7 separate regions of the Homo sapiens genome follow, and all the other regions are reported to be linked to region 1. Evidence: microRNA targets listed by miRTarBase, many of them from high-throughput screens and not tested one by one. Region 1 holds a microRNA gene; each other region holds the end of a gene's coding sequence.

Region 1 (4,067 bases):
GTTAAGTTCGGGGTTCAGGCGCCATGCTGTGTTGAGGGGAGTGGTGAAAGCTGTAGGGTATAACTGTGCAAGATAGGGCAGTACCTCCACAATCAGCCATGCTGTGTGCAGTGCCCTGCCCAGAAATGTGTCAGTCGCCCAGATTATATGTCACTAGTTCCTTTCCAGGTAGAGTAAGGCACACCAAGTATAAGTTTGTAGTGGCCTTTGGACCCATGATAGTGTAGAGTTGCAAGAGCCTTCAGGTACCTTCCCTGAGACCAGCAGATCTTAGTTGGCCATGTGGACCTCAGGCATCCTCAAGATAAGTTAAGTGGCTTGTCCCTAACAACATGAGCACCTACAGGTTATAGATCAGAAAGGCAAGATGAAGATAATTCCTACTAGAAAAATAGAAAATGGGAACAATCTTGCTCTCTTCTGGTCCTGGCAATCATCCAGATAAACATAGAGTAGGTGAGAGATTCCTCACTTAGGGAGGCATATACCTTGGAGGGCAGTGGGCTAGACATGATCCAGGACTGATGAATAAATAAGTTCAGGGTTCAGACATCATGCTGTGCTCAGAGGAGTGATGGAAGCTACAGGTGGAGAACACGCAAGATGCGACAGCACCTCCACAATTAGCCATGTTGTGGGCAGTGCTCTACTCAAAAAGCTGTCAGTCACTTAGATTACATGTGACTGACACCTCTTTGGGTGAAGGAAGGCTCACCAAGTACACTTTTGTGGTGGTCCTCAGACTGGTGAGGGGGTAGACCTGCAAGCAACTTGAGCTGCCTTCATTGATCCCAGGAGAACCTTGGAAACCACCTGGAATTCAGGCATCGTCAAGATGATCATTTCTAACAACGTGAGCACCTACAAATTAGAGAAGGCAATGACAGAAAAGATAGTTACTTCCTAAAAGGAGAAAACAGGAACAATCTTTTCTTGTCTTGGCCATCATCCAGGTGAACATAAATCAGATAAGAAGGTCGTCACTGAGGCAGGCATGCCAAGTTGGAGGGCAGTGGGCTGGAAATTCTCTAGGAATTAAGATTAAGTTCAGGGTTCAGGCATCCTGCTGTGTTGAGTGGGGTGATGAAAGCTGCAGTGCACGATGGTGGATGATGGGGCAGCACCTCTACAATCAGACATGCTGTGGGAAGTGCCCTACTTGGAAAGGCATCAGTTGCTTAGATTACATGTAACTATTCCCTTTCTGAGTAGAGTAAGTCTTACCAAGTACAAGTTCATGGTGACCTTCGGACAGGTGATGCAGTGGAGTTGCTGGAGGCTTTAGTTGTCTTCAGTAAGGCCGGGAGATCCTAGCTGGCCACCTGAACCTTAGGTGTTCTCAAGGTGATTTCAATGATGCATTTCTAACAATGGAAATACCTATTTTTCAGAGAATAGAAAGATAGAAGAAATGAAGATACTTCCTAATAGAAGAACAGAAAACGAGCTTGTTCTCTCATGGTCCTGGCAACCATCTGGGCAAATATGGAGCAGTGAGCATGTCTCATTGAGTGAGACATGCGTCATGGAGGGCAGCAGACTGGACATTCTCCTGGACGGGGGTTGACCTTGCAAGATGGGCCAGCACCTCCGCTATCAGACATGCTGTGTGCAGTGTCCTACTTAGAAATGTGCCAGTTTCCTAGATTATACATCACTGGTTTCTTCCTTGGTAGTGTAAGGCTCAACAAGTATAAGTTTGTAGTGGCCTTTGGACCCATGATAGGGTGGAGTTTCAAGAGCCTTGAGGTACCTTTCCTGATACCAGGAGACCTTAGTTGGCCATGTGGACCTCAGGCATCGTCGAGATATTCTAAATCGTCTGTCCCTAACAACATGAACACATGCAGGTTATAGATGAGAAAGACAAGATGAAGATAATTCCTACTAGAAAAATAGAATGAGAACAATCTTGCTTTCTCCTGGTCTTGGCGATCACCCAGGTAAACATAGAGCAGGTGAGGGGTTCCTCATTTAGGGAGGCATGTACATTGGAGGGCAGTGGGTTAGACATGATCCAGGACTGTTGAATAAATAAATTCAGGGTTCAGGCATCATGCTGTGCTCAGGAGTGATGGAAGCTACAGGGGGAGAACATGCAAGATGGGACAGCACCCCCACAATTAGCCATGTTGTGGGCAGTGCCCTACTCCAAAAGGGGTCAGTCACTTAGATTAGATGTTTCCAGCTCCTTTCTGGGTAGAGCAAGATTCTCCAGGTACAATTTTGTGATGGCGTTCAGATTGGTGAGGAGACAGACCTGCAAGCACCTTCAACTGCCTTCATTGATCCCAGGAGAGATTTGGAAGCCACCTGGAACTCAGGGATCCTCAAGATGATTTTAATGATCCATTTCTAACAATGTGAGCACCTACAGGTTAGATAAGGTAATAATAGAAGAGATAAAGATACTTCCTAAAAGAAGAAGAGAGAACGGGAACAAGATTTTTTTTCTTCTCGTCTTGGCCATCATCCAGGGAAACATAAATCAAGTGAGAAGGTCTTCATTGAGGCAGGCATGCCAAGTTGGAGGGCAGTGGGCTGGAACTTCTCTAGGACTTAATAAATGTGTTCAGGGCTCAGGCAGCCTGCTGTGTTGAGGGGAGTGATGAAACCTGCAGTGCGTGATGGTGGGTGATGGGGCAGCACCTCCACTATCAGTCGTGCTGTGGGCAGTGCCCTATTCAGAAAGGTGCCAGTCACTTAGATTACATGTCACTGTTTCCTTTCTGAGTGGAGTAGGGCTTACCAAGTACAAGTGTGTGGTGGTCTTCAGACAGGCGATGAGTTGGAGTTGCTGGAGCCCTAAGTTGTCTTCAATGATGCCAGGAGATCCTAGCTGGCCACCTGAACCTCAGACATCCTCTAGATGATTTCAGTGGTTCATTCCTAATAATGAGAATACCTATATGATAGAGAAGAGAAGGATAGAAGACGTGAAGATACTTCCTAATAGAAGAACAGAAAAACAAGCTTGTTCTCTCGTGGTCCTGGCAACCATCTGGGTAAACATGAAGCCAAGTGAGAGTGCTCTTGCTGAGGGAAACATACATGATGGAGGGCAGTGGGCTGGACATTCTCTAGGATGGGGATTCACATTGCACGATGGAGTAGCCCCTCCCCATTCGTCCATAATATGTTCCAGAAAGGTGCCAGTCACTTAGATTATATGTAACTAGTTCCTCTCTGAGTGGACTAAGGCTTACCAAGTACAAGCATATAGTTGCCTGTAGACCCCTGATGTGGAGTTCCAAGGGCCTTGAGCTGCCTTCCCTGATGCCAGGAGATCCTATTTGGCCACATGGACCTCAGGCATCCTCAAGATAATTCTACTGGTGCATTCCTAATGATGTAGACTCCATCATGTTAAAGAAGAAAGTGATAGAAGAGATGAAGATACTTCCTAGTTGAAGAATAGAAAACGGGAACAAGCTTGTTTTCTCCTGGTCTGGGCAATCATCCAGGTAAACATAGAGCAGGTGAGAGGGCACTGAGGGAGACATGCAAGTTGGGGGCTTGTGGGCTGGGCATTATTTTGAACTGATGAATAAATAAGTTCAGGATTCAGGCATCATACCGTGCTCAGAGGAGTGATGAAAGCTGCAGGGTATGAAAATGCAAGATGGGGCAGCACTTCCCCTTTCGACCATGCTGTGTTCAGGGCTATTCCCAGAAAGGTGTCTGATATGGTTTGGCTGTGTCCCCACCCAAATCTCACCTTGAATCATAGTTCCCATAATCCCCATGTGTCATGGGAGGGACCCAGTGGGAGGTAATTGAATCATGGGGGCGGTTACTCCCATGCTGCTGATCTCATGATAGTGAGTTCTCACAAGATCTGATGGTTTTATAAGGGGCTTTCACCCGCTTTGCTCAACACTTCTCATTCCTGCCGCCATGTAAAGAAGGACGTGTTTGCTTCCCCTTCTACCGTAATTGCAAGTTTCCTGAGGTTTCCCCAGCCATGCTGAACTGTGAGTCAATTAAACCTCTTTTTTCAATAGAAATTACCCAGTCTTTGGTATGTCTTTATTAGCAGCATGACAATTGACTAATAGAGTGCCAGT
Region 2 (4,058 bases), not on the chromosome of region 1:
AACCCTAAATGGCTTGCAGTAGATATGGATGGAGGTGGATCCTTTGACTGGTTTTTTCTATATGCTCTGGGTCAGCCTGTGCTGCAGGACCATTTGTTAAAGGTTAATCACATTTTTTTGGCAGGCTGTTTCTGCCCAGGATGTTTATGAGTATATGGAAGATGACTTCCATCCTTGTGATAAAGCAAGTATGAAAGCACAAATGCCCAAATTATCCTGCCTCTCCTTGGTGCTAAGAAAAGGTCTCTGCTATGCTCTCTGATTTATTAGGCCAATTTGGCTTGACGTCTGCTTTGTGAGGTGCTAGCTGGCCTGAACCAACAGAAAAGCAGACTCATTCAGCATCAGTATCAGCTAAAGATCTGGAAGTGTAAGGCTGTGTTTCCTCTCCTGTCTTGGGACTTTGCTTCTGAGCTCATTGAGGCCCTGACAGGTGCTGACAACTCAAAGGAGAGGCTCAGTTGGGTAAAGTAAATAGGATAATCAAAAAATGTGGTTAATAGGGGATGACCTCCATCTAACTGGCTCAGCTACTCCAGGGAAATGAAGCCGACTGCGTGAACTGGAAGGAAAGACGCCGCACAAAATATCCGTCCCCAGGTGCTACTGACAGGGTATGAACGGGATGTGGAGGAGGCTCAGGTGGAGAGAGGGCCCTTCTAATTTTCCTGCAGAGCTTCTGGTCTCTGGGACTGTCCAACAATTTGAACCCCCTATGATTAGAACTGTAGTGCTGTTTAGGAAGCCAAAATGAAGGCATATAGGATCGGTCAGTTAATATTTAATTTTAATAATACTTGTTATGTTTGAACAGTCAGCAATGCACAAAGAAAAAATCTTCAGTGAATGTTTACACACAGTGTGAACACATGCTTTAAATATGCAGTGGAGGAGGAGGGGTGAATTCACAGTTAACAAAGCTAAAAAAAAAATCCTTGTTATAAATTACACAAAGCATATAAAAATATTTCTCTGAATGCATAGATTAAGACTTTAAACTCACCTACCAGCAACTGTGCAGTCTTATTCCACTGCGATACGCAGTAGTCAGTTGACCACAGAGGATTTTATAAAGGAGAAGAGAGACCAGCATAGGACAGAGATACATCAAACCCACCTCTCACCAGAGACACCAGTCCCTTGCTTGCCTCTGTCGCTAAGCCCAGAACATGCCCTGCAGCTGCTCCTCTGGAGGCCATCTCCCAGCCAGGGGCTCCACTGCTCCACTTTAATTAATCTGGGTGGCTGAAAGTGTTTTAACCCAAGTAACTTAAGACATGAATTAATAGTGAATTTATTTCCTCTAGGACAGAACCAGACTTAACTTTATTAGTAAACTGTAACTGTTTTAGAAGTAAAGAAAAAAAAGGTTACTACATCTAGTTAAATTCACTTCCGATTGGTTGAAACACAAGGGAGGGGCTGGGCCGGGTGGCTCACACCTGTAATCGGAGCACTTTGGGAGGCCAAGGCAGGTGGATCACTTGAGGCCAGGAGTTCGAGACCAGCCTGGCCAACATGGTGAAACCTTGTCTCTACTAAAATACAGAAATTAGCTGGGCATGGTGGCACATGCTTGTAATCCCAGCTACTTGGGAGGCTGAGGCAGGAGAATCGTTTGAACCCGGGAGGCAGAGGTTTCAGTGAGCTGAGATTATGCCACTGCACTTCAGCCTGGGCAACAAAGCAAGACTCCGTCTCAAAAAAAAAAAGAAAAGAAACACCAGGGAGGTTTCTTCTTTAAAGCACTTGAGAGAAAGAGGGTAATAAGTAACCTTCACTCTGCTATGCAAACACTGTACAAGGGTGAGTAAGTCACCAGCAGTAATTGGTGGGATACAATTAAGTCACTAAACAGAGTGAGTCCATGAAGTTAGCCTTGAAAAACATCTCAACCTCATTTCAGCATTTAGGCAGCAGCAGGAGGCCATTATCTTAGCACAACATTCTCTTCTGTTGACATCTTCTGCACGTTCTCACTCAACTGTAGTGTTCTAATAAAATTAAGTTAACACAGTTAGGAAGTTGAGTTTCTTTGGAAACTATAGGCACTATGGGGAAAAAGCTTCTTAAGACAGCAGGGATGCTCTTCGACAGCTGGCTTCAAACCCCTGCTCTCCTGTTTGTCTAAGTGTGCTAGTTCTTATTTCTGAAGTTAAGCTGTTTGTTTCAACAAAACAGTGGCTGCTCTTTTAACATTAATGACACTGAAGGAAAGGAAAAGAATCCTTGAATGCATTCTTCTAAAAAATTCCTATGCCATACTCAAGAGCTTAATCAGGTGTTTTGTTTCTATTTTTCAGAACAAAGTCTGGTAGACTCATAACTGACTTTGTGAAGTGAATTGGTGGTAGTAGTAGGGGGATCACTAAGATCAAACAATTTGTTTACAAAAGCAACAGATTTCAGAATTGTGTAAAAATCCTAATAATTTCAAAATAACCTTTATTTTTGATACAAAAATAAAGATGCTAACTCCTTTAGCTCAGTTTCCCACAATAACCTTTAAAATAGCAACAGATTCAGTCTCAAAAATTGCTTTTCATTTGTAGTGGAAAATGAAAGTGGAGAACATGGAACAGCAATATTTGTGCTCTTCTCATAGGATGCAGTTACACACACATATGACTGGAATCACTTCAGAGTAAAAAAAAAGTGGGCTGGGTGCAGTGGCTCACACCTGTAATCCCAGCACTTTGGGAGGCCAAGGACAGGAGCATCACTTAAGGCCAGAAGTTTGAGACCAGCCTGGGCCACATAGTGAGACCCTGTCTCTATGGGCGGGGTGGGGGTGGGGGGCATTGTAAAAAAGCAGTTGTTCTTTTAGAAGGCATCAGAGAGCCCTCTAGTGACCACGAAGGGGAGTTAATGCAGAGATGACTCGAGACAGAGAAGCAGTCATGAGTGTTTACAAAGGAAAAAGTGAGGGAGGGAAAGCTCTTTTGGTTAACAGCATATTTACAATTAGTTAACTGTATTCTTAAATACTTTTAACCTGAGTAACATTTATAAATATGTTATAGGAAACCTCACAGTCACAAGTCACACTAGAATCCATCTGTCCAGTATCTGTGCTTTCCCCACACCAGAATCCATCTGTCCAGTATCTGTGCTTTCCCGAGTCTTCCTCTCTCATAAGTTCCCAATGTCAGCAGAGTTGTGAGCATGCAACACCAAGAAAAACGCATCCCAGCCCTTCAGGTGCACTGTCAACAGGAGTGGCTAGAAATAGGCTCCGCTCTCTCTCAGCTGCTGCTTAGACAACTCTCTTACATTCTGGACATAAAACACACTGGATATAGAACCTTCAGCTTCTGCCTCTCCAGACCACTTCTCAGCTGTTCAAAGCTTCAAGCAATAGGTTTACTGTGCACCAAGAGGCTTGGAAGAGTGGCACCACTGCTTGGGGGTCAGGGGCTTCCTACCTTGGCAGAATGATGTTAGTATATACTATGCAGTGGCACCAGAGGCCCTCCCGGGCATCTGAGGCATTTAGATCAATGGCTTGTCCTTGGCCCAGAGGTGATGCACACTGTCATAATACTCAGTGATAAAAGTCCCTGCTGCATTAGTAAGTCAGTTTTGAAGCTCTCCTGTTATAGCAAGGCCTTTCAGTCAGTGTGGATGCAGCATTTCTGAACAGAAAATTATTTTCACTTATCATCAGAACCAGTTCCAGCTCCTGGAAATCTTGGAGTCGAGCAACATCCTTGTCCTAAAACAAAAATATGTTAAACAGATTAACAGGAGCCACTTGTCTCCATATGTTTGGTGCACTCTATTGATACCAGTATCTTGTCTTATTTCAAAACCTAGAAGAAAAAAAAAAATCCCTGTGGCAGGCTAAGTCAGTGATAGTGCAACTAAGGCCCCAGGATGATTGGGTTGCAAAGTGGAAGTCCTTAAAAACAGCTCAGCAGCTGCGACAGCATGAGCACACACTGCGAAGGGAGAGGCAATGCACAGATCAGTTTCCCAGGTGCCCTGAGAAGCCAGAAGCCTGATGTCAAAAACCCAGAGATGTATGAAGGACCACACATGCATCTATGTGATTTGCT
Region 3 (4,067 bases), not on the chromosome of region 1:
AGGTCCAGTCACTGGTCTGCAGTAACCATTTTGTGCAAGACACTGTCCTGGGCATGAAGGGGTGAACAAAAGGTCAAGTTTCTTCCTTTGTGGAAGGGAAAATGATTTTTCAGTGCTTCCCGTGTGACTGGAGTGCCAGAACCTCTCTAGATCCGAGTATTCAGTTGTGAACCCTGAGGGAATGCACTGATTTGGATTCATCTGAAGGCATCTGGTTGGTGTGAGAGTTGACCTGTGTTTACAGGAAGGTAGAGGCCATGTTCTCTCCCTCTCAGGTCTCAGGAGCTACGCTGGGGTGTGGGCTCTGTGCCCCGCTGAGCTCTGCCTGGGGCTCTGGAGGCTGAGTGTAAGTGTGGCACCATCACTCAGCTCCTTTCTTGTTTTTCAGGGTTGGGGTGCTGAGTATCATCGCCAGGATGTCACCAGCACCCCCTGCTGGATTGAGATTCATCTTCATGGGCCACTGCAGTGGCTGGACAAAGTTCTGACTCAGATGGGCTCTCCACATAACCCCATTTCTTCAGTGTCTTAACAGTCATGTCTTAAGCTGCATTTCCATAGGATAGAGGCTATTGCAGGGAGTGGCTTGTATCATTTCAGATTTGCAACTGAAGTTTCTAAAAACATGTGTAAATACATAGAATGTATACTGTTCTTATTTTTTTTAATCACCGTTTGTTTTGTGCTTTCTAGTTAACCTGATGCCAGTACAGTGCAATTGGAAAAGCAGGACTTTGGTGCCTGTGCTATAAGCAGCAGATTTTGTGGGAGGAAACACTTGAGAGGCGATATTGTCAACAGTATTTGAAGGGTGTTAGCAGAATAAAAGACAGCTTTAGTCAGCCGTGTCATTATAAAGCATGTTGTGTGGCCTCACAGAAACATTGAAACTGTTTATACAGCAAAAGTCAGGTATTAGCAGCACTAAAGCAAATATCACTCAGATGAAACAAAGCAGTGAAACCCCTACAGTTTAAATGATGTCACTTTTAGTGCTGTTGGCAAGAAAAAAAAAACAACAAACTTGTACAATGAATTAATGAGATAGGCCATAGAAACTTTATTTCTAAGGTTGACATACCTATAGCTGGGCTCCTGTGCTCATATTCAGTGGTACATTTTAAACAAACTGTGATCGGAAAAGAAAAAAAACTGTGAAGCCAAAAGTCATGTTCCCTCAGTCTACCACTGTAAAAACAGAGTCTAATATGGGAAAATAAATATGAAAATAGCATGAAATGCTGTTTCCCAGATTGCAAGATAAGACCAGAACTTGGTCCAAGAGCCAGCCACCCAGGGAGACTCCTGCTTTCCACAGAGGAGACCAGGTTCCTGTCGTGCTGGTTGTTCGTGTCAGGCAGTCCTGCAAACTTTGAGTCTGCGCAGCGTGCCAGAATAGCTTGTGTTTCAGTCCTGTGTCAAGAAGCAGGTGAAACCAAAGGTTGGAGAAAAGCATCACACGTCGACTTACACTTTCTCATTTCCCACGTTCCAGTCTCCTGGGAAGGGCACTCTTTCGCCACGTTTTCCTGCCTCTTGGCAAATATTAACTCTTTGCAGATCACTAAAGCAACAGTAAAGACTTTGAGAAAATCTAGACACATTATTGGATCAATGAGTTATTTAACCTAGTGTCTAGTGATTATCTAACCTGGAAATAAATTCCCAAGGAAAGTGATAATAATTTCATAATCATCTGCAATTTCTGGGGAACAGTGGTACTGAATAATAAGACATCTTTTAAAAATATACACAATATTAAAAACCTGTTCTTATTTTACTTTAGATGAGGGAGGAAAATCCCCCAAATTTCTAGGTACTTTCATATATATACTTGCCATGCACTAAACACTGCATTGCTTGGAAAAATATTTCACACCCTCTTTAAAAATGTACAATTTAAGATGGCAGTTATGCTTGTAACAGACAGCACTTCAGTAATCCAAGAAGTTTCTTCATTTATACATTTTATCTCAACTCTTTCTAGCATTAGTGCACATGGTAGTTTTTCTAATTAAATTGTATTCAAGGTAGAAATGATCATGTGAGAAAGATATATGATTGAGCTACTACTGTCACCTCTTACAGTTACTAGTGTTAGCTAATAGAAACTTTCATATATACACATAGAAAAGAATTATTACATTTTACATTGAAAAATGTAATATATGGCCCATGTAGTGTATAGAAAAATCTGTAGTTTATTGGTTCATCAACTATGTATTGTGCACCTACCTATGGGTGTCAGGTACAATGTTAGGTACTGTAGAATCAAATGTAAATAAGAGACAGTCCCAGCCCTCAGGGAGCCGAGAACCTAATAGTGAATCTGTTTGTACAGACATCTTCATGTTTCAGAACTTTTAAAACAAAACAAAATAATGTAATCTATCATCTTTTGCTTGAAAGAATGTGATTGATTTCTTATCTCTGTTTTGAAATTATTTCCTTACTCTTCTGCAAAGTCAGGTAATGGATTCCTTGTATAAATGCTACTTTTCTTCCATGTCTCAAAGTTGTTTTTTTTCCTCCCCTTTCTTCCCTGTTTTCCAATAATTCTCCATGTCCCCTTTTCTTAGAAAAGGCATTAATATGGTGAATCTTGTATGGGAACCATTCCATGGGAGAACTTCAACACAGTTTTTGCTCCAGAGATCAAACATAGCTTTCGTGATCTCTCTACCAGCTATCTAACTTATCCTCTGGTAATCTTTTTTTTTTTTTTTTTTTTTTTGAGATGGAGTCTCGCTGTGTCACCAGGCCAGAGTGCAGTGGCGTGATCTTGGCTCACTGCAACCTCTGCCTCCCGGGTTCGAGTGATTCTCCTGCCTCAGCCTCCCAAGTAGTTGGGACTACAGGCTACCACGCCCAGCTAATTTTTATATTTTTAGTAGAGACGGGGTTTCACCATGGTAGCCAGAATGGTCTCTATCTCTTGACCTTGTGATCCGCCCGCCTCAGCCTCCCAAAGTGCTGGGATTACAGGCGTGAGCCACTGCGCCCGGCTTCCTCTGGTAATCTTACACCTTTACAGAATTAATCTAAACTGGTGGCTCATAAATGACATTAAAAACAAAAAAAAAATCTGGATGCAGTGGCTCATTCCTATAGTCCCAGCACTTTGGGAGGCCAAGGCGGGAGGATCATCTGAGCCCAGGAGTTTGGGGCTGTAGTGAACTATGATCATACAACTTCATTCTAGCCTGGGTGACAAAGTGACACCCTGTCTCTAAACAAAAATCAAGAAACAAAAAACTTGTATTTCCCTGCAGCTTTGGGAAGCCAGAACACAATATTGCAGTGAATCTGAATTTTCTGTGACAAATAAATTATTAAATTGGCACATATGATCATCACCAGTCATGTCTCATCAAAAGCCTTTATTATGATGCTTGTACATTTTGAAGAATTTAGAATTAATGAGAAGTTAACCCTTTAGTCATTGTAACACAATCATATTTTAATCAGCTTTTTCTTTTGCTACCAAGAGTTTCAAAAAATAAATGCAGTATTTGATTTCAGGCTGCTAAATGGGCTCATTTAGCATTCATTCCTTGATGTAGACATTAAAAAAAAAACTGAATAGCATTCTTTCCAGGATAACTAATAAAGCAGACATGCTAAGCCTATAAATACATCAGCACTGCAGCACACGTTTAAGGTTGCCACGGACAAGGATCACACAATAGAGAACACTGTAGTAACATTTCGGTCTGCTCACAAGACCCAGAACATTGATCAGTTTTTGTTGTTGGTTTATTATTTTTCTGTTAAAAAATTGTGAAAAGTTTGTTTTAGCTAGATGATATTTTAATAGCTGCGAGTGCTTTGGAACTATAAAGATGTCACTACTTAACACATATACCTTATGTTTTGTTTTGTTTTGTTTTACACTCAGTATAAATCAGGAGAAGTTAGCCAACCATCTAGCATTTAGAATCCTCTTTTTTATTGTCTTCTAAGGATATGGATGTTCCCATAACAGCAACAAAACAGCAACAAAAACATTTCATAAATATCACTTGATAGACTGTAAGCACCTGCTTAACTTTGTGTCCCAAATATTT
Region 4 (4,056 bases), not on the chromosome of region 1:
CCGGCTGTCTTGTGGGCCCACAGGCGAGAACGTGAAGGCATTCTTCAGCCGCGTAGCCGCCCTGGCATTCGAGCAGTCGGTGCTGCAGGACCTGGAGAGGCAGAGCAGTGCCCGGCTCCAGGTCGGCAATGGAGACCTAATCCGTGAGTATAGGTGTGACTGGGTTGGGCTGGGGAGTAGGCTGGAGGCCTAAAATCCACATGCGCCATCCTCGTCACCTGAGGCCTTGCCATTTCCTGAACTTGTGGCCCTCTCCTGTCCTTTGACCCTCCTCTCAGGGTGTCACTGCAGCCTCAGGCCTGTAGCCCCTCTGATTCCACCTGCCAGGTCAGACACCCTCCCTAGCCCTCCCTGTTCTCCTGACACATGGACCTCATGGGCATCCATGAGGTCCTCATAGCCCAGGCTGGGCGTCCCAGGCTCTGCAGATGTGTCCTGGCCCCGGCTCTCCCAGTCTGCACCTTTGCCCTCTCTGTTCCAGTGCCTGGAAGGCCCTCTCTTGGCTTGTGTCAGGCCATTCAGGCCTTGAACAGCAGGCCCAGAAGCTTCAGCTCACAGCTCTGACTGTCAGGGCCGGCATCCCCTGCCCAGTGTCAGCTACAGGATTCCTGGTTGATGCTAAATTACTTCTCCCCTCCTTACAGAAATGGAAGGGAGTCCGCCCGAGACCCAGGAGAGCAAGAGGCCCTCCAGCCTGGGCTGCTGCTAACTGGGGCCTGCGTGGAAGGCCTCCGCTCCCTGCACACACACGGACAGGAATTTCCGTGACTGTGGTGTGGAGACTGGAGCCCAAGCTCTGCAGCGTGTCGCCCTCAAGCTGTAGGCCCATGTTCCAGTCCCTCCACCCACCCACCGGGCTCAGCTCCAGGGCACAGTCACTTGTCCGTTGCAGGTTGGGCACTAGAAAAGGCCCCCACTGGCTGCCTGGGAGCCCCACACCACCGGGCCAGTGCAGGCACTGTGGTGATCCCATAAAAGGCCAGTCCATTTGCAGGGTCATCAGACAGTCACCTTTGGCCTCAAGAGGCCTCAGAACTGCAAACTCCTGCGTCGGTCTATACTACTCGGCCATGGCCCACATCAGCAGTCAACCCTGCACTCTTTCCCAGCGATCTTGGATGTGTCCCCAGGATCCGTCACAGTGTTCCAGGCAACCTGGACTTGTCAAAGTCAGCACCTGAAGGAGAGGCCACCTGCCATTCCCCCTGGGAGTTTTCTGTTGTCAGCAGGACTTATGGTTCTGGGTCTCAGAGCTTCAGGCCTCACTGTCCTTCTGCCACGGATGCTCAAGGTTCCTGGGCAGACCAGCACCTCTGGAGGACAATGGACAAAATGTCTCTTAGACCTGTTCTGGCTGAAGGGCTATCTCTGGCACCTCTGAGATCCCTAGGTCCTGCCCTCCTGGTCCGTGGGCCAGGATGTGCAGAACAACCACTCAGGCCTTTCTGGCCCACCTGGACAGTGCATTTACCTGTGTGCTGCGGGAGGCAGACTGCACAGCTGTCCTAGGGTAACTCACTCTGCAGCCCTTGAACATGGCACTGCCCTCCTCTGGCACTCATGCTGGGCCTGTGCCCACTGCTGCCTCTCCATCCCTCTCTCATTGGCCTATACATCTCTTAGGACCTTTGTAATGGTGTCCATGCACCTTTAGAGGACTTCAGAGGCCCTGCCAAGTCTAGCATGTTCCTGTCTCCAACACCGCCTCCTGCACATGCAGAGCAGACAGAAATACCCCACACATTCCCCAGCCTCTCTGCCCAGTATGCTCATCCACAGGGTTTTCTCACTGCTATGAACCAGCCCCACAGCCCCAGGCCCCTGTCACCTGGCTATGCCCACTCATCCCACCCGTCTCGTGCTGTTGCTTCCCGTAGATGGCGAGCACCTTGCAGGCAGCCTTCTGATCAGTACTGCTCTCCTAGGGCCTGGCACACTGCAGCTGCCCTGTAAATGTTCAGCTCAGCGATTGCCAAATACCAGTTAGGGAAGAACACTGGCATCTTTTTCTATTCATTCCCCCTTCAACATATTTTTTGTAGTTTTTTATATAAATGACTTTTTTTTTTTTTTGAGATGGAGTTTCACCCTTGTTGCCCAGGCTGGAGTGCAATGGCGTAATCTCGGCTCAGTGCAACCTCTGCCTCCCAGGTTGAAGCGATTCTCCTGCCTCAGCCTCCCAAGTAGCTGGGATTACAGGCATGCACCACCATGCCTGGCTAATTTTGTATTTTTAGTAGAGATGGGGTTTCTCCATGTTGGTCAGGCTGCTCTCGGACTCCTGATCTCAGGTGACCTGCCCACCTCGGCCTCCCGAAGTGCTGGGATTACAAGGGTGAGCCACCATGCCCGGCCATAAATGATTTTATTCATTTTTATGTTTTCTTTTGGGCGGCGGGATGGAGTCTCTGTCACCCAGGCTGGCGTGCAATGGCACGATCTTGGCTCACTGCAAGCTTCCCCTTCCGGGTTCATGCCATTCTCCTGCCTCAGCCTCCCGAGTAGCTGGGACTACAGGCACGTGTGACCATGCCGGGCTAATTTTTTATATTTTTAGTAGAGAGAGGTTTCACCGTGTTAGCCAGGATGGTCTCGATGATCTGACCTCGTGATCTGCCCGCCTCGGCCTCCCAAAGTGCTGGGATTACAGGCCTGAGCCACCGCGTCCGGCCTCCATAAATGACTTTTAAAGGGGTTGTATGTTTAGTGTGAACAAAGACAGTACAAAGCATATAAAATACAAGGTGAAAGCCCCCCCCCCGCCACATTAGCTGCGCCCCTGAAGTGTCTCCAGCAGAAGAGATGGATGAATGGAAGGACACACAGATGGACAGAGAGCAGGAAAGACTGTTAGCTCTGCTAACAGTCAGGACTATTCCTTCTGGACTCTGTGCCTTTGCCTGCACAGCTAGTGTTGATGGCTTGTTTGTTGTTTTCACCAGAGTGAGCTCCTTCTGGACATACTGCCTGGCAGCCTGCCTTCCTAGGGAGCTGGCGCCAAGGCCTCTCCCTGATGGCACACAAGGAGCCTCCTTCCTGTAGCAGCGCCCAGTTTTCATGTGGATGGATTGTAGTTCATTTGACCCTCCCCATCCGCGGGCCATCCGGCTTGTGTCCAGCTTTTAGCTCTTGCCAATGGTGCTGCAGTGGCCATTCTTGTAGTTATAGCTTTGCGTACTCAGGAAGGCCCTTCTCCCGACTGCGGCCCCCAGCCTGGTCCACTAAATGCAGCCTGTGGTCGGGCAGACAGCATTGGGGTCCATTAGGAAGACCAGGTTTGCTGGGCATAAGCTTCACAGGACGGGAGAACCTGCCCATGGTGGACTGTCGTTCTCCACAGCTCCCTTCCCTTGCCCCTTCGGGCCTCCAGGATATGTTTGCGGGGGTGGGTGTGGTGTCCAGCTGTTACCAGCTTCTGAGCTAGAGCTGTACTGCCTCACGTACACCCCCACCTCTGTAAATGGTCCTTGATTAAATCGTCCTCATATTACCTCCTGCAATGTGCCAGCTGATTCCCACACACCCTGACTGACATAGTTGTGGCCTCTCGAACTTTGATATTTGGCCTGGGAGGACAGAAGAGTAAGGTCGCCACGGAAACGCAAGGGGCTCAGTTGTCCCCCCACCCCAAGTTGATGCAGCATCTTCTCGGTCAGAATTGCTTCAGGGTGGTTTGCGCACCCTCACTTTGATGATTTAATGAAGACATTTCCTTCTTTCCCAGCATCGGGCAGTAAGTTTCCTGGGCAGAGGCACTTTCTGTTGGTCTGGTCTTGTGGGCCCAGGCAAGCAGCCCCCTGCAGCCAAGGTGCGGCAATGACCACAGTGACCGCGTCCAAGTGCTGCCGAAACGCCTTTTTCCTCTTCCCTGTTTCCCTGGACCCTTTCCTGCTCTCTGTCCATCTGTGTGTCCTTCCGTTCACCTGTCTCTTCTGCTGGAGACACGTACCTGAAGCAGGTCCTCTCCTGTCACTTCCTGGCTCCCCAGGGCTAGGTCCCAGGGTGCTCTCGCTCTGGCTTTCGAGGCTCCTCACCACCCAGCCCACCCCACCCCCA
Region 5 (4,067 bases), not on the chromosome of region 1:
TCTCGAATTCCTGGGCTCAAATGATCCACCTGCCTCAGCCTCCCAAAGTGCTAGGATTACAGGAGTGACCCACCGTGCCCAGCACCCCCTTTACCTCTGAGCAATCCATCTCTCTCCTTGGGGGCACCCCATGATCTAGACACCACCCACCTTGTTCTGCCTTGGCCAAAATACCACCTAACTGCCCCCACCTATGCCAGGTGCCCCTCACCCACCCTCCTCCACCCTTCGCTGAGTCCCACTTGGCTGGTGCCCAGGACAGGGACAGTCCCAGCCCTTCCAGCCCATCTCCCCACATCAGTACACTCCGGAGAGCCAGCCAAGAGTAGATTCTTTATTCATTTCTCTTTTTTTTCTTAAAAAAAAAAGTATTCATTTGGTATAAAAAATAAATATTTTAAATATGACATTGAATAAATAAAAATAATCTGTCAGTATGAAACATCCCCACAGGGTACATTCATCAAAGAGGAATTTGTCACCCAAGGCCATGTGCTTTTCAGTGGAAAGGAAGGAGGGAAACCTCTAAGGCCGCACGGTGGGCCCACGGAGCTAGCACGTGGGCGGGACTGAAGGCTGGATGCCGGGATTGAGGTGGGGAACTAGAGATGACTCTAAGGCAGGAACATCTGTACCATCTGCAGGGAAATGCTACCTCCCCGGGTGCCAGAGCTCCAACCCCACACACTATGTCTACTCTGGAGAGCCGGCAAGGCAGAGCTGGACTGGCTGGGTCAGGGTGGAAGTGCCCCAAGTCAGGGACAAGGAGGACGATGGGGACGATGGGGAGGAGAGACAAGTAAACTAGCAGTGCTTTTTAAAAAAATGTTTAAATAATAAATAAGGGCCCGGAGACATCTCTCTTGGTAAACTCTCTCTTCCTCCGGCCAGGCCCAGGTGTGGTCCACACCAGCAGATAAAAAGGGAAGAGAAACCCAGCTCCCGGCCTGGCAGAGCTGTTTCACGCAAAGGCTCTGTGATTCAGTGATGCTGTGCAGGGTGGACGCCAAGCTGCCGGACGGGATCTGGAGGGAGCACTGAGGATGGGTCCCATGGGGCCAAGTCCAGGCTGGGTGGGAGAGCGACTCAGAGCCAGGGCCGCAAGGTGGGCCTGGCACAGAGCTCCCAAGTCCACAGGGAGATGAGGTGATGGGCGAGTCAGCCGGGCCCCCCGGGTGGAATCAGCAACTCTGGTTTCCAGACAAGTTTGTCTTTCTCGAAGCCCATCCTGGGGGAATGCAGCCAGCCCCAAGCTAAGCCGGATGAAGCAGGAAGGAGAAGGCAGTCCCTGCATCCTGGACAAGGGTGAGTGTGGCCCACATCTCAACAGCCACATCCTCGTCTTGCTGTTGGGATGGACAGATGGACAACTCCGGGCCGCACCCTCCACCCCAACCCCAGGCCTCAGGACCTGCCTGCACACTGCCCACGCGCCATCCAGGTAAAGTGCTTAGAGAGCGACAGGGAAAGGTGCAAAGTGAGTGAAAAGTACCATAATTAGTACCATCATCTTGTCGGAGGAACTTGGAGGCCGGCAGCCCGCTCAGGGTTTGAGAAGAAGCCAGAACACTGCTCTGAGCAGCTGCCCCAACTCTGCTGCCTCCTTCCCTCCCCTGCTCTCAGACTGGAGGGCGTTTCTCCACTCGCCTGGCCCCAGCACAAAGGAAGAGATCGGGTTCCCTGCCTGGGAGCCCAGACATGGGTGGGAGTGGGATGGGGGTGGAGCAGGAGGGCCCACAGCTTCCTGGTCTGAGTCCCAGGCATCTGCAGCCTCCCTCTCCTCCTCTTGGGAGCAATGGGCAGCTGATCCCCCCAGTCTACCCCACCTTCCTGGGGTCTGGCCCAGCCAGGCCCCCCGCACCGTCTATGGGTGTCCGGGCCACAGGAGGAGCTTCCCTGCTGTGTCGGAGCATGCTGGGTGCAGGGGCAGGGTTGTTCCAGGGCGCTATTTCAGAGGCAGCATGGGGACACAGAAACAAGGACAGGGTGGGCCACAAGGACTGTCTTGCCCACTGCTCCAGGGGGCACAATATCTGCCAGGAACAGTGCGCCTCACAACACAATGCTGGGGCGCCCAAGAACAGTGTGAACCAGCCCCCTGGAATCAAGACAGAAAGGCACCCGGCCTCTCCACAAATTGGCCCAGCCCCTGCAGCCTGGACCCTGACACCCTAAAGCAAGTCACAGTAGGGGATGGGGGGGGGTGGAGCAAGGCCCCCCACTCCCACTCAGGCCTCCCCATTCTCTCAGATCCGACCCTTCTCTGAGCTTCACCCGTAAGGCTTATTCCACTTGTAACATTGTCGACTTCCAGACCAGGCCCTGCTAAGCCCTGGCCCTGGCGCTTGTGTCGGGAGCCATCATCATATTTTGTTGAGTAGGGACCAGGGAAAGGGGAATTAACTTGGCCACTGAAAGCACCAATAAGTTAATATAAATAGGATATCATAATAAATAGAAATCATGCCAGGTCAGACGCACAGCACGCTTGGAGCTCAGGGTTCCCTGAGACCCTGACCCTAAGTTCTGCTGTTCCCTTGCCCTGGGGACCAGAGACGGCCTCCAGTCCCCCTCAAGTACCTCTGTGTGACCTCACAAGGCCTCCCAGGGCCTCAGATGTGAGCTGCTACTCTGAGCTACCCCAGCCCCTTCTTACAGACCTTTACCCAGAGGAAGAGCCTGGGTCCCTCAGAACCTCTGCACCTGACTTAGCAACCTGCCCCTGCCCTACCCACCTCCACAAACCCCTGCTGCAGGTCCAGCCATCAGACCCTGGCCATCCCAGGCTGCAGGGAAGATCACGGGGAAGAGAACGAAGAACCTACCAAAGCTTTCCAGGCCTCTCCTCCTCCCAGTGTCTTCCTTCCCAGGCCTGAAGGTGGCTTCTCTGCCTCCCCAAGAGCCTGAATGCCAAGTGACCTCCTTCTGGAAACTTCTGCCAGATTGTTCCTATGCCCAAGTTCTCTGATCATCCTCAAAAGAAGACAGCCTTCCATCCCAGAGGCCCCTCTCTATCTTCCACTCATCAAACTTCTAGGGGACAAGGAGTCCTTTGGGATCCTAGCCCCTCTGGCCCACCTAAGTCCCAACCTAAGGGGCAGCAAAGGCACAGATGGTGATAATTTGCTGGGGGCTGGTCCACTCCCCTGGGCCCTGCTGTCTCACCCTGTGGTCAGGGCTCTTGTAGATGACTTGTGTAGTTTGTTCACTGCACAAAGTGAGCAAGGGGCCAAAGGGACAAGTAGAGGCAGAAGTCCAGCCCACGCTCCCCAGTCCACAATCTCCCAGAGGAAGGGGCACCTTCTTCTAGCTCCCTCCCTATGGAAGTTTCCACTCTGCTCAGCTTCATCACAGCCCAGCCCAGAGTGGAGTGGACTGGCCAGGCACCCTCGGGGTCTGCCAGCAGCCCCCATTTGGGTTTAGCGATGCCCTGGGCCCCAGCCACCCTTGGACAGGCCCCCACATCTGGACCCAACTCCTGAGATCCCTCGGTTCACAGCACACTTCAAGACCTCCTGCTAGAAGGCCTGGGCCAACACGGCGATGATCTGCTTATACTTCCCCAGGAGTTGACAGCCCAGCTTCTTCTTCTGGAAGACATCCTTACCCGAGGTGTCAGGGCCGTAGGTCACGTCCACATGGCCCACGTGGTACTTGCTGCACAGGCGGCACAGCACGTTGCTAAGGAGGCCTCGCAGGATGTCGGCGGTGGCGTTGAGCTTGCTGTGGAGGCTGAGGGCACTGGGGTTGAGGATCTTCTGGTCCCGGGTGATGTTGCCCAGGGAGGTGCCAAGGTACACGACTATGCGGTACAGCTCCACCAGCTTGGCCTTCTCCGTGCCGTTGGCGTGGAAGGGCGGGAAGTCCGTCACGTTGGGGCCACATAGCTTGTCCAGGTTGTTGGGGAACGGCTCCCCCTGGGCTGTGTACTGAGGGGCAGAAGGGAGGTGACGTGGGAGTCAGGGGTCAGTGTCCCAGCCCTGCCGCCAACCCTTTGGGCAAGCTCTTGCGTCTGTTTCCCCATCTAGCGCATGAGGACCCAACTCCTTGCCCTGTAAGCATCTGGA
Region 6 (4,067 bases), not on the chromosome of region 1:
GTTCCAAAATGGTAATTCCAAATTCAAAGGAAAAGAAAATATTGATCATCTTCTCATAGAAAAGCTATGTTTTTCTACAAAGGCCCCACTATGCCTGGCCAAGTAATTTCTTAAAACTTTATTTGGGCTGGGTGCGGTGGCTCATGCCTGTAATCTCAGCACTTTGGGAGGTCCAGGTGGGCAGACAGCTTGAGCCCAGGAGTTCAAGACCAGCATGGGCTACATGGCGAAACCCTCTCTCTACAAAAAAAGTAATAATAAAAATAAATTAAAAAATAAAAAATAAAAAATTGACTGGGTGTGGTCCCAGCTACTTGGAAGGCTGAGGTGAGAGGCCAGCTTGAGCCCAGAAGGTGGAGGTTGCAGTAAGCCAAGATTACACCATTGTACTCCAGTATGGGTGACATAGTGAGACCCTGTCTTGACAAAAAAACAAAAAAACCAACCTTTGATAAGAGAGCAAGTATCAACATTTTAAAGAACTGCACTACTATGGCAAGACAGCATAACTAGTACCGGTCAGCAGGTTCTGAGCACTGCATTGTCAGGTTCCTAGCTTTTCCCCAACCACGGGAAAGCAGCACCACTCATTTATCCAAGTGATTCTTGGGAATATATAAGTCCATGTAAAGCAGGCATCTCTGGTGTTCTGGTAGAGGAACTGGGACCATTGAAAGGTCTCATGGCTTTTGAGGGAAAGGGTGTGGAGCAATATCAGAGGACTGAATAGTCTAGGCATGTATTGACCTCTCATATTCCTTCTGTTCAGGGAGTAAGATCTAACCACTTGAGTTAACCAAGGAAAGGAGTTTGGCAGGGATTGATCAGAGACAATACTTGTCCAAGAGACTTGGTCACTTACATTATATCTATCTCAAGGAAGAATGCCTGAACTATGAATGTATTCTGCTGTGGAACCAGGATTGGGAATAGGTGGGGACCAGTTCTGGATGCCATTTTATTCTTTGTCTATGCATCTGATATATAGGCTTCTTTATCTTTAACCATCTAGTTTATACAGACTACATTCGGTCAGCCTAGGTTGGGTGAGTTAAGAAAGACATTTTAAATAACTGCCCTTAAGGATCATTTGAAGACCATCCAAAACAGGACTAGGAATTCATCTTTGTCCTCTCAAAGTTAGAAGATTTCCAGAGACTACAAATACAATAAAATTTATACCAATCAGCACAAAATGAGAAAAAGAAGGATTCTGTGCATGAATTTTCTGGCCACCTTTATTCACTATTTGGCATTAAAATATACTTTAAGAAATGGTAACTGGAGCTCTAGCTCTTGGTCTATATGAAAATGAGGACCACATACCAGGGATGGAGGGAGCCTAGGATCCTAAAGAATGTGGAACAAAACCTACATCAGCCCTGGACTGCCTCTGGTTTTCTACAGAGAACTAAACTCCTAACTGGTTCAATACACTGTTTAGCTCTCAACTGCAGCCAAGTTTAGATATTGTTTCGCAGACTTCTGCAACAGGAACATCATTTGAGATGTAATACCATCTAATAATGAGACCAAACATATTTCCCAAATATTACTAAAAGGTTGTGAATGCTCTACTTAAGGAGTATCAATCCATTAATAATGGAAATAACATTTAAAAAATACATTTACTTTAAATATTTTTATATAACACATGCATAAAGATAAATGCTAATGATATCATAAAATCTGTAGAATGTTTAATACTGATGAAAGGTTTTGTCTAAAAAATTTATTCTAATCTACACATGAGGAAAGATTAGGGTTACAGTGAAAACTGTATGCAATGCAATTTTTTATTTTTTTTTGAGACAGAGTCTTGCTCTGTTGCCCAGGCTGAAATGCAGTGGCACAATCTCAGCTCACTGCAACCTCTGCCTCTCGGGTTCAAGCAATTTGCCTGCCTCAGCCTCCGGAGTAGCTGGGACTACAGGCACATGCTGCCACGCCCAGCTAATTTTTTGTATTTTATTAGAGACGAGGTTTCACTGTGTTGCCCAGGCTGGTTTCGAACTCCTGAGCTCAGGCAATCCGCCCGCCTCAGCCTCCCAAAGTGCTGGGATTACAGGCGTGAGCCACCGTGCCCAACCAACTGTATGCAATTTCTAAAGGATCTGACATATATTTAATATAAAGTGCCTTCCTTAAAATATCTTGATGAATTCTTCAAAAATTGGCAATCTACTTGTCTTTATTTTGAGATAGAGTCTGGCTCTGCTGCCCAGGCTGGAGCACAGTGGTATGATCTCAGCTCACTGCAACCTCCACCTCCTGGGTTCAACCAATTCTCCTGCCTCAGCCTCCCAAGTACTTGGGACCACAGGAGTGTGCCACCACACCCGGCTAATTTGTTTTGGATTTTTTTTTTTTTAGTAGAGACAAAGTTTCACCATGTTGGTCAGGCTGGTCTCGAACCCCTGACCTCAGGTGAGCCGCCTGCCTTGGCCACCCAAAATGCTGGGATTACAAGCATGAGCCACCGTGCCCTGCCGAATCAATATTTTGTTATCGTTGTTGTTGAGACAGAGTCTTGCACTGTCACCCAGGCTGGAGTGCAGTGGCACAATCTCAGCTCACTACAACCCCTGCCTCCCGGGTTCAAGCAATTCTCCTGCCTTAGCCTCCCAAGTAGTTGGGATTACAGGCGGTCGCCACCATGCCCAGCTAATTTTTGTAGTTTTAGCAGAGACAGGGTTTTGACATGTTGGCCAGGGTGGTCTCAAACTCCTGACCTCAGGTGATCCACCTGCCTCGGCCTCCCAATGTGCTGGGATTACAGGTGTGAGCCACCATGCCCAGCCTACATTTTTTTTAATGTTCTGAGTACCCTCACAGCCTAATTTTCTTGAACATTTATTCTGCCAAAAGGAACTGAATTTCTAACTTTTTCTCTATTACAATTTTCATTAATCTTTTTGAATGCTTTTTTAAAATAGCTAACTTAAAAAAATCTAAGTCTCTAACAGAAATAAAAATCTCAACAATCAATTACTGGATTTCCAATATAACCTTTTACAGCATTTCAAAAACAAATCTTAATTCGGCCAGGCACAGTGGCTCACTTTGGGAGGCTGAGGTGGGCAGATCACCTGAGGTCAGGAGTTCAAGACCAGCCTGGCCAACATGGCAAAACCCCGTCTCTACTAAAAATACAAAAATTAGCAGGACATCGTGATGTGTGCCTGTAATCCCAGCTACTTGGGAGGTTGAGACAGGAGAATCGATTGAACCTAGGAAGCGGAGGTTGCAGTGAGTTGAGATTGCGCCACTGCACTCCAGCCTAGGCAACAGAGCAAGACTCCATCTCAAAAAAAAAAAAAACAAATAAAAATAAAAAAGCAAATCTGAATTCAAACCAATACCTTTAAAGAGAAATGTAAAACTCAGTTTAATTTCAAGTTTGTATAGAGAATGTATGCCACAGTTTGTATTTTATAAACACAACCTATCTTATTATAAATACAAAATAAGAAAAAGTGATACGTTAGCTGTTATGAAGGGTGAAAACATTATATAAACTTCAAAAGGCTGCTTTCTGCATCTGCATCTATGTAATTTCATGGTTCTCTACCAATTTCATTTACAGAAATAATCTCTATAGTCAAATTATTGTTCACTTTCATGCCCCAACATGGGAAGTGGTAGGTGAATATCTGTAGGAATACAATTTATTGTCTGCTCCTCCACTCAGAAGTAGCTGTGTAAAAGGAGAGAAAAAGACAAGAAAACATAAATAAATATAATTATTTCACATCATAGCTAAACCTAATTAAATACTAATGATTTTCATTACAAAAGGAATTATGGGTGAGCAGTTAACTTGCATTGAGAGTGAGTAAAGGGACCAACGTTGTTTCACTACTATACTATGATACAGTTTATTAAAACATTAAAAGCTATCATTTAAATTTGGTTGAGACATAATATGCTGTTGCACTTTCTATAAAGCATCTGCCAAGATACATAAGTTTGAAAGGGATACAGTTTTACCTATTAAAGAAAATTAAAAATTTTTAAAGGACAACACATTAATTGTATATTACAAATTATTCAAGTAGCCCTAGGCC
Region 7 (4,064 bases), not on the chromosome of region 1:
TGCAGTGGGTTGGGTTATATAATGTCCAGAGATTTGGTGCCAAGGATCTATGAAATGATGGGTCACGTAAAACCCATCAAGTTTGAAGATGTTTATGTCGGGATCTGTTTGAATTTATTAAAAGTGAACATTCATATTCCAGAAGACACAAATCTTTTCTTTCTATATAGAATCCATTTGGATGTCTGTCAACTGAGACGTGTGATTGCAGCCCATGGCTTTTCTTCCAAGGAGATCATCACTTTTTGGCAGGTCATGCTAAGGAACACCACATGCCATTATTAACTTCACATTCTACAAAAAGCCTAGAAGGACAGGATACTTTGTGGAAAGTGTTAAATAAAGTAGGTACTGTGGAAAATTCATGGGGAGGTCAGTGTGCTGGCTTACACTGAACTGAAACTCATGAAAAACCCAGACTGGAGACTGGAGGGTTACACTTGTGATTTATTAGTCAGGCCCTTCAAAGATGATATGTGGAGGAATTAAATATAAAGGAATTGGAGGTTTTTGCTAAAGAAATTAATAGGACCAAACAATTTGGACATGTCATTCTGTAGACTAGAATTTCTTAAAAGGGTGTTACTGAGTTATAAGCTCACTAGGCTGTAAAAACAAAACAATGTAGAGTTTTATTTATTGAACAATGTAGTCACTTGAAGGTTTTGTGTATATCTTATGTGGATTACCAATTTAAAAATATATGTAGTTCTGTGTCAAAAAACTTCTTCACTGAAGTTATACTGAACAAAATTTTACCTGTTTTTGGTCATTTATAAAGTACTTCAAGATGTTGCAGTATTTCACAGTTATTATTATTTAAAATTACTTCAACTTTGTGTTTTTAAATGTTTTGACGATTTCAATACAAGATAAAAAGGATAGTGAATCATTCTTTACATGCAAACATTTTCCAGTTACTTAACTGATCAGTTTATTATTGATACATCACTCCATTAATGTAAAGTCATAGGTCATTATTGCATATCAGTAATCTCTTGGACTTTGTTAAATATTTTACTGTGGTAATATAGAGAAGAATTAAAGCAAGAAAATCTGAAGTATTGTCTTGTTTTTAAAAAATACAGTTCCTAGTGTTTTTAGAAGTCACTTAATTTGTCTCATTTTTCCACCTGGAAATTAGGAATAATGTAGAATGCAAGGCAGTAATTTCCTTTTGGAAAGGACTCTGAAGGCAGAAAAGAAGGGAGAGAACCTCATGGGCAGAATATTATAAAAAGAGTGTCATATTCCAGCATTTGAATTGGAAAGAGAAGAGTGAAGATCCAAGTTGCATTATTAATCTGCCCTGTGTTTTTTCCTTTTAACAATCAGTTTGAGCTGCTGCTGTTATGAGTTTCTCATCAAGATGAAAGCCCTAATATGTAAAGTCAAATCCGATTTAAATTTTGTGCTTTTATAGAAAGAAATTTCTTCATAGACGTGGTGATATATCATTTGTTGGACCTGCTAATAGTAGGTCAAAGGGGAGCACTCCTTGCCCCCTGTTCCTGGGTTTATGCAGTTTTCTTTTTAGAGTTTATATAGGGCAAGTGGTTCTTTTTCTCTGAATTACAGGATGGAAAAAGGTCATATCCTTTGTCAGGAAATATAAACTTGAAAGTATGTAGTCAGCTCTTGTAATACTCATATTTATGATTGTCCTATATGAAAAACAACTTCAGTTAAAACTATAATGTGTGATTCTGTATAACAAGGTGATGTCTGTTTCCCAGGGCTCAGACCTAATCCAGTTATAATAAAATCAATTAAATGAAATATTCTATAGAATCGATCTATGCCCTTGTTAATCTCCATCCATATAGGAGTCACGTTCTTTAAGACAGATGGTGGTAGTTATTTTTGTGGCATGGTTAGATTTGACTGGTTTTGCAGAAGATTACAGTTATGTACTGCATAATGACATATACAATAGTGGTCCCATAAAATTATAATGGAGCAGAAAATCTATTGCCTCATGATGTTTTAGCCGTTTTAATGTCATAGCCTAGTGCATTACTCACGTGTCTGTGGAGATGCTGGTGTAAACAAACCTACTACACTGCCAGTTGTATAAAAGTACAGCACATTCAGTTATGTACAGTATGTAATACTGATAATGACAATAAATGACACCGGTTTGTGTATTTACTTTTTATAATTAGAGTGTTCTATTCCTACTTATTAAAAAAATGTTTAATAGAGCCTTGGGCAGGTCCTTCAGGAGGTATTCCAGAAGAAAGCATTGTTATCATAGGAGATGACAGCTCCATTCATGCTATTTCTCCTGAAGACCTTCCAGTGAGACAAGATGTGGTGATAGAAGACAGTGATACTGATGATCCTGACCCTGTGGGCCTAGGCTAATGTGTGTGTTTGTGTCTTAAGTTTTTAACAAAGTTTAAAAAGTAGAAAAATAAAGTTTAAAATAGGAAAAAACTTACAGAATAAGGATATAAAGATATTTTTGTGCAGTTTTACAAGATGTTTGTGTTTTAAATTTAAGCTAAGTGTCAAAAAACTTTGACAAAAGAGTCAAAGTTTGAAAGTTTGTAAAGTTAAGTTACGGTGAGTTAAGGTTAATTACTGAAGAAAGAAAATTGTTAAATGAATTTAGTGTGGCCTACTTTAAATGTGCCATGTTTGTAAAGTCTACAGTAGTGCACAGTAATGTTTGAGGCCTTCACATTCACCCACCACTCACTTAGTGACTCACACAGAGCAACTTCCACCCCTGCAAGCTCTATTAATGGTAAGTGCCCTCCCTATACAGGTGTACTATTTTTTATCTTTTATACTGTTTGGTTTTTTTTACTGTGCTTTTTCTATTTTAGATACACCAGTACCATTGTGTGACAGTTTCCAACAGTAAGTATTCAGTACAGTAACATTCTGTACAGGTTTATAGCCTAGAAGCGATAGGCTCTACCATGTAGCCTAGGTGTATAGTAGGCTATGCCATCTACGTTTGTGTAAGTACACTCTAATGTTTGCACAACGACAAAATCACCTATTTCTCAGAATGTATCTCCATTGCTAAGTGCCACATTTCTGTATATCGATGTTTGGGAAGCTAACTCAAAACATTTCTAGAGAGAACTTTTAACATAAAAAATAATTCCCTTTCACTTTTAGAAAAGACCAAAAAACAAAAAAAAAACAAACAAGTTTCAGAAGATTGTTTCTTTTGAACTGAAGATTGGTGCCTAAAAGAACCTACAAAGTTAAATGATTAGGAAAACATTAAGAGATTGGGTCATTATATTTTTTGTTTTCAACTATATTAAGCTTTCAGGAAGTAAATATTAGCTGTGTTATTAAAATCATGACCTGGTGTTTAACCAAATCAGCAGCTTTAAAAATTTTAACTCATATAACAACGTTTAATACTGGAGCTTATCCTTGGGCTGATTTGGTCCCATCTGCCTTAGCCCTGCCATCCCCATAGTTTCACACACCCTCTGCCTCACTTGCTTTCCTTGTCTGCAGGTGTTGAGTTTGTGACTTTTAGCACATTAGTTAGCTTTGCTAAGGGTCACAAATGCTACAGTAACGCCCAAATCTCAGACTTGATGACAACCAATGTTTTCACTCAGTTGCATGGCAGTGGTTGGCTGCAACCCTGCTCTATGTCTTTTTCATTCCAGGATCCAGGCTGATGGGCAGCCCGTTTGGAACATGCTGTTCTTATAGAAGGAAATTAAAAAGCTGGTGGAAGCACAGTGGCATATATTAATACATCCACTGGCTGAGATGAATCCCTTGCCAAGCCCAGTGTCACTGAGGTGGGGAAGTATATTTCTCTTGCAGGAAGTAACTGCAAGTGATGTTGCAGCATGCAGGAATGTATTGTTCCACAGAATGGGGAATGAAAAACTGAGTGCAGTCGTACTGTAAGCTGCCACACTCAGTGTCTGAAAGGGAGAGGGAGCCTTCAGACAATGCCAGACAACTCTGCAACAGACCCCAATTTAGGCCCTGTAAACCAGAAATGTAAGAAATAATTTTTGCCTAATGCTGCCAACTTTGGGGATGCTTTCTTACGATAATTAAAACATTTCTCA

The links. The annotated mature microRNA hsa-miR-890 reads UACUUGGAAAGGCAUCAGUUG and lies in region 1 at 1,157-1,177, shown strand. An mRNA with a match to its seed (bases 2 to 7 or 8) in the 3' UTR can be bound and repressed. Matches are read on the target gene's strand: a 7mer-m8 pairs with bases 2 to 8, a 7mer-A1 pairs with bases 2 to 7 and ends in A, and an 8mer does both.
Region 2: miRTarBase lists ANKRD40 as a target of hsa-miR-890. Seed matches in the 3' UTR shown: 7mer-A1 at 1,590-1,596.
Region 3: the mRNA of SMAD9 is a reported target of hsa-miR-890. Seed matches in the 3' UTR shown: 7mer-A1 at 2,839-2,845.
Region 4: miRTarBase lists RAB36 as a target of hsa-miR-890. Seed matches in the 3' UTR shown: 7mer-A1 at 2,180-2,186 and 7mer-m8 at 3,835-3,841.
Region 5: miRTarBase lists LIF as a target of hsa-miR-890. Seed matches in the 3' UTR shown: 7mer-m8 at 1,523-1,529.
Region 6: the mRNA of WDR12 is a reported target of hsa-miR-890. Seed matches in the 3' UTR shown: 7mer-A1 at 3,196-3,202, 7mer-A1 at 2,309-2,315 and 8mer at 312-319.
Region 7: miRTarBase lists B3GALNT1 as a target of hsa-miR-890. Seed matches in the 3' UTR shown: 7mer-m8 at 1,286-1,292.

What each region holds. Positions count from the first base shown.
Region 1 is chrX:145,991,431-145,995,497 of GRCh38, reverse strand. It overlaps MIR890 (microRNA 890), which reads left to right and starts at 1,147; the gene lies at 1,147-1,223. It overlaps MIR892C (microRNA 892c), which reads left to right and starts at 2,672; the gene lies at 2,672-2,748. MIR888 (microRNA 888) reads left to right here and starts at 638; the gene lies at 638-714.
Region 2 is chr17:50,692,429-50,696,486 of GRCh38, forward strand. ANKRD40 (ankyrin repeat domain 40) reads right to left here. Exons shown (of 5, transcript NM_052855.4): 5 at 770-3,715. The coding sequence ends at 3,569. Among named protein-coding and RNA genes, the nearest start is that of ANKRD40, 13 kb to the right of the region's middle.
Region 3 is chr13:36,845,141-36,849,207 of GRCh38, reverse strand. It overlaps SMAD9 (SMAD family member 9), which reads left to right. Exons shown (of 7, transcript NM_001127217.3): 7 at 389-4,067. The coding sequence ends at 532. Among named protein-coding and RNA genes, the nearest start is that of RFXAP, 28 kb to the right of the region's middle.
Region 4 is chr22:23,160,856-23,164,911 of GRCh38, forward strand. RAB36 (RAB36, member RAS oncogene family) reads left to right here. Exons shown (of 11, transcript NM_004914.5): 10 at 24-143; 11 at 645-4,056. The coding sequence ends at 709. It also overlaps a transcript of RSPH14 not described here. Among named protein-coding and RNA genes, the nearest start is that of RAB36, 17 kb to the left of the region's middle.
Region 5 is chr22:30,240,133-30,244,199 of GRCh38, forward strand. LIF (LIF interleukin 6 family cytokine) reads right to left here. Exons shown (of 3, transcript NM_002309.5): 3 at 321-3,929. The coding sequence ends at 3,519. LIF-AS1 (LIF antisense RNA 1) reads left to right here. Exons shown (of 3, transcript NR_149070.1): 3 at 1-406. Among named protein-coding and RNA genes, the nearest start is that of LIF-AS1, 3.0 kb to the left of the region's middle. RefSeq lists an enhancer at 1,504-2,172.
Region 6 is chr2:202,877,241-202,881,307 of GRCh38, forward strand. It overlaps WDR12 (WD repeat domain 12), which reads right to left. Exons shown (of 13, transcript NM_018256.4): 13 at 1-3,697. The coding sequence ends at 3,620. Among named protein-coding and RNA genes, the nearest start is that of ICA1L, 7.5 kb to the left of the region's middle.
Region 7 is chr3:161,081,980-161,086,043 of GRCh38, reverse strand. It overlaps B3GALNT1 (beta-1,3-N-acetylgalactosaminyltransferase 1 (Globoside blood group)), which reads left to right. Exons shown (of 5, transcript NM_003781.4): 5 at 1-2,161. The coding sequence ends at 285. Among named protein-coding and RNA genes, the nearest start is that of B3GALNT1, 21 kb to the left of the region's middle.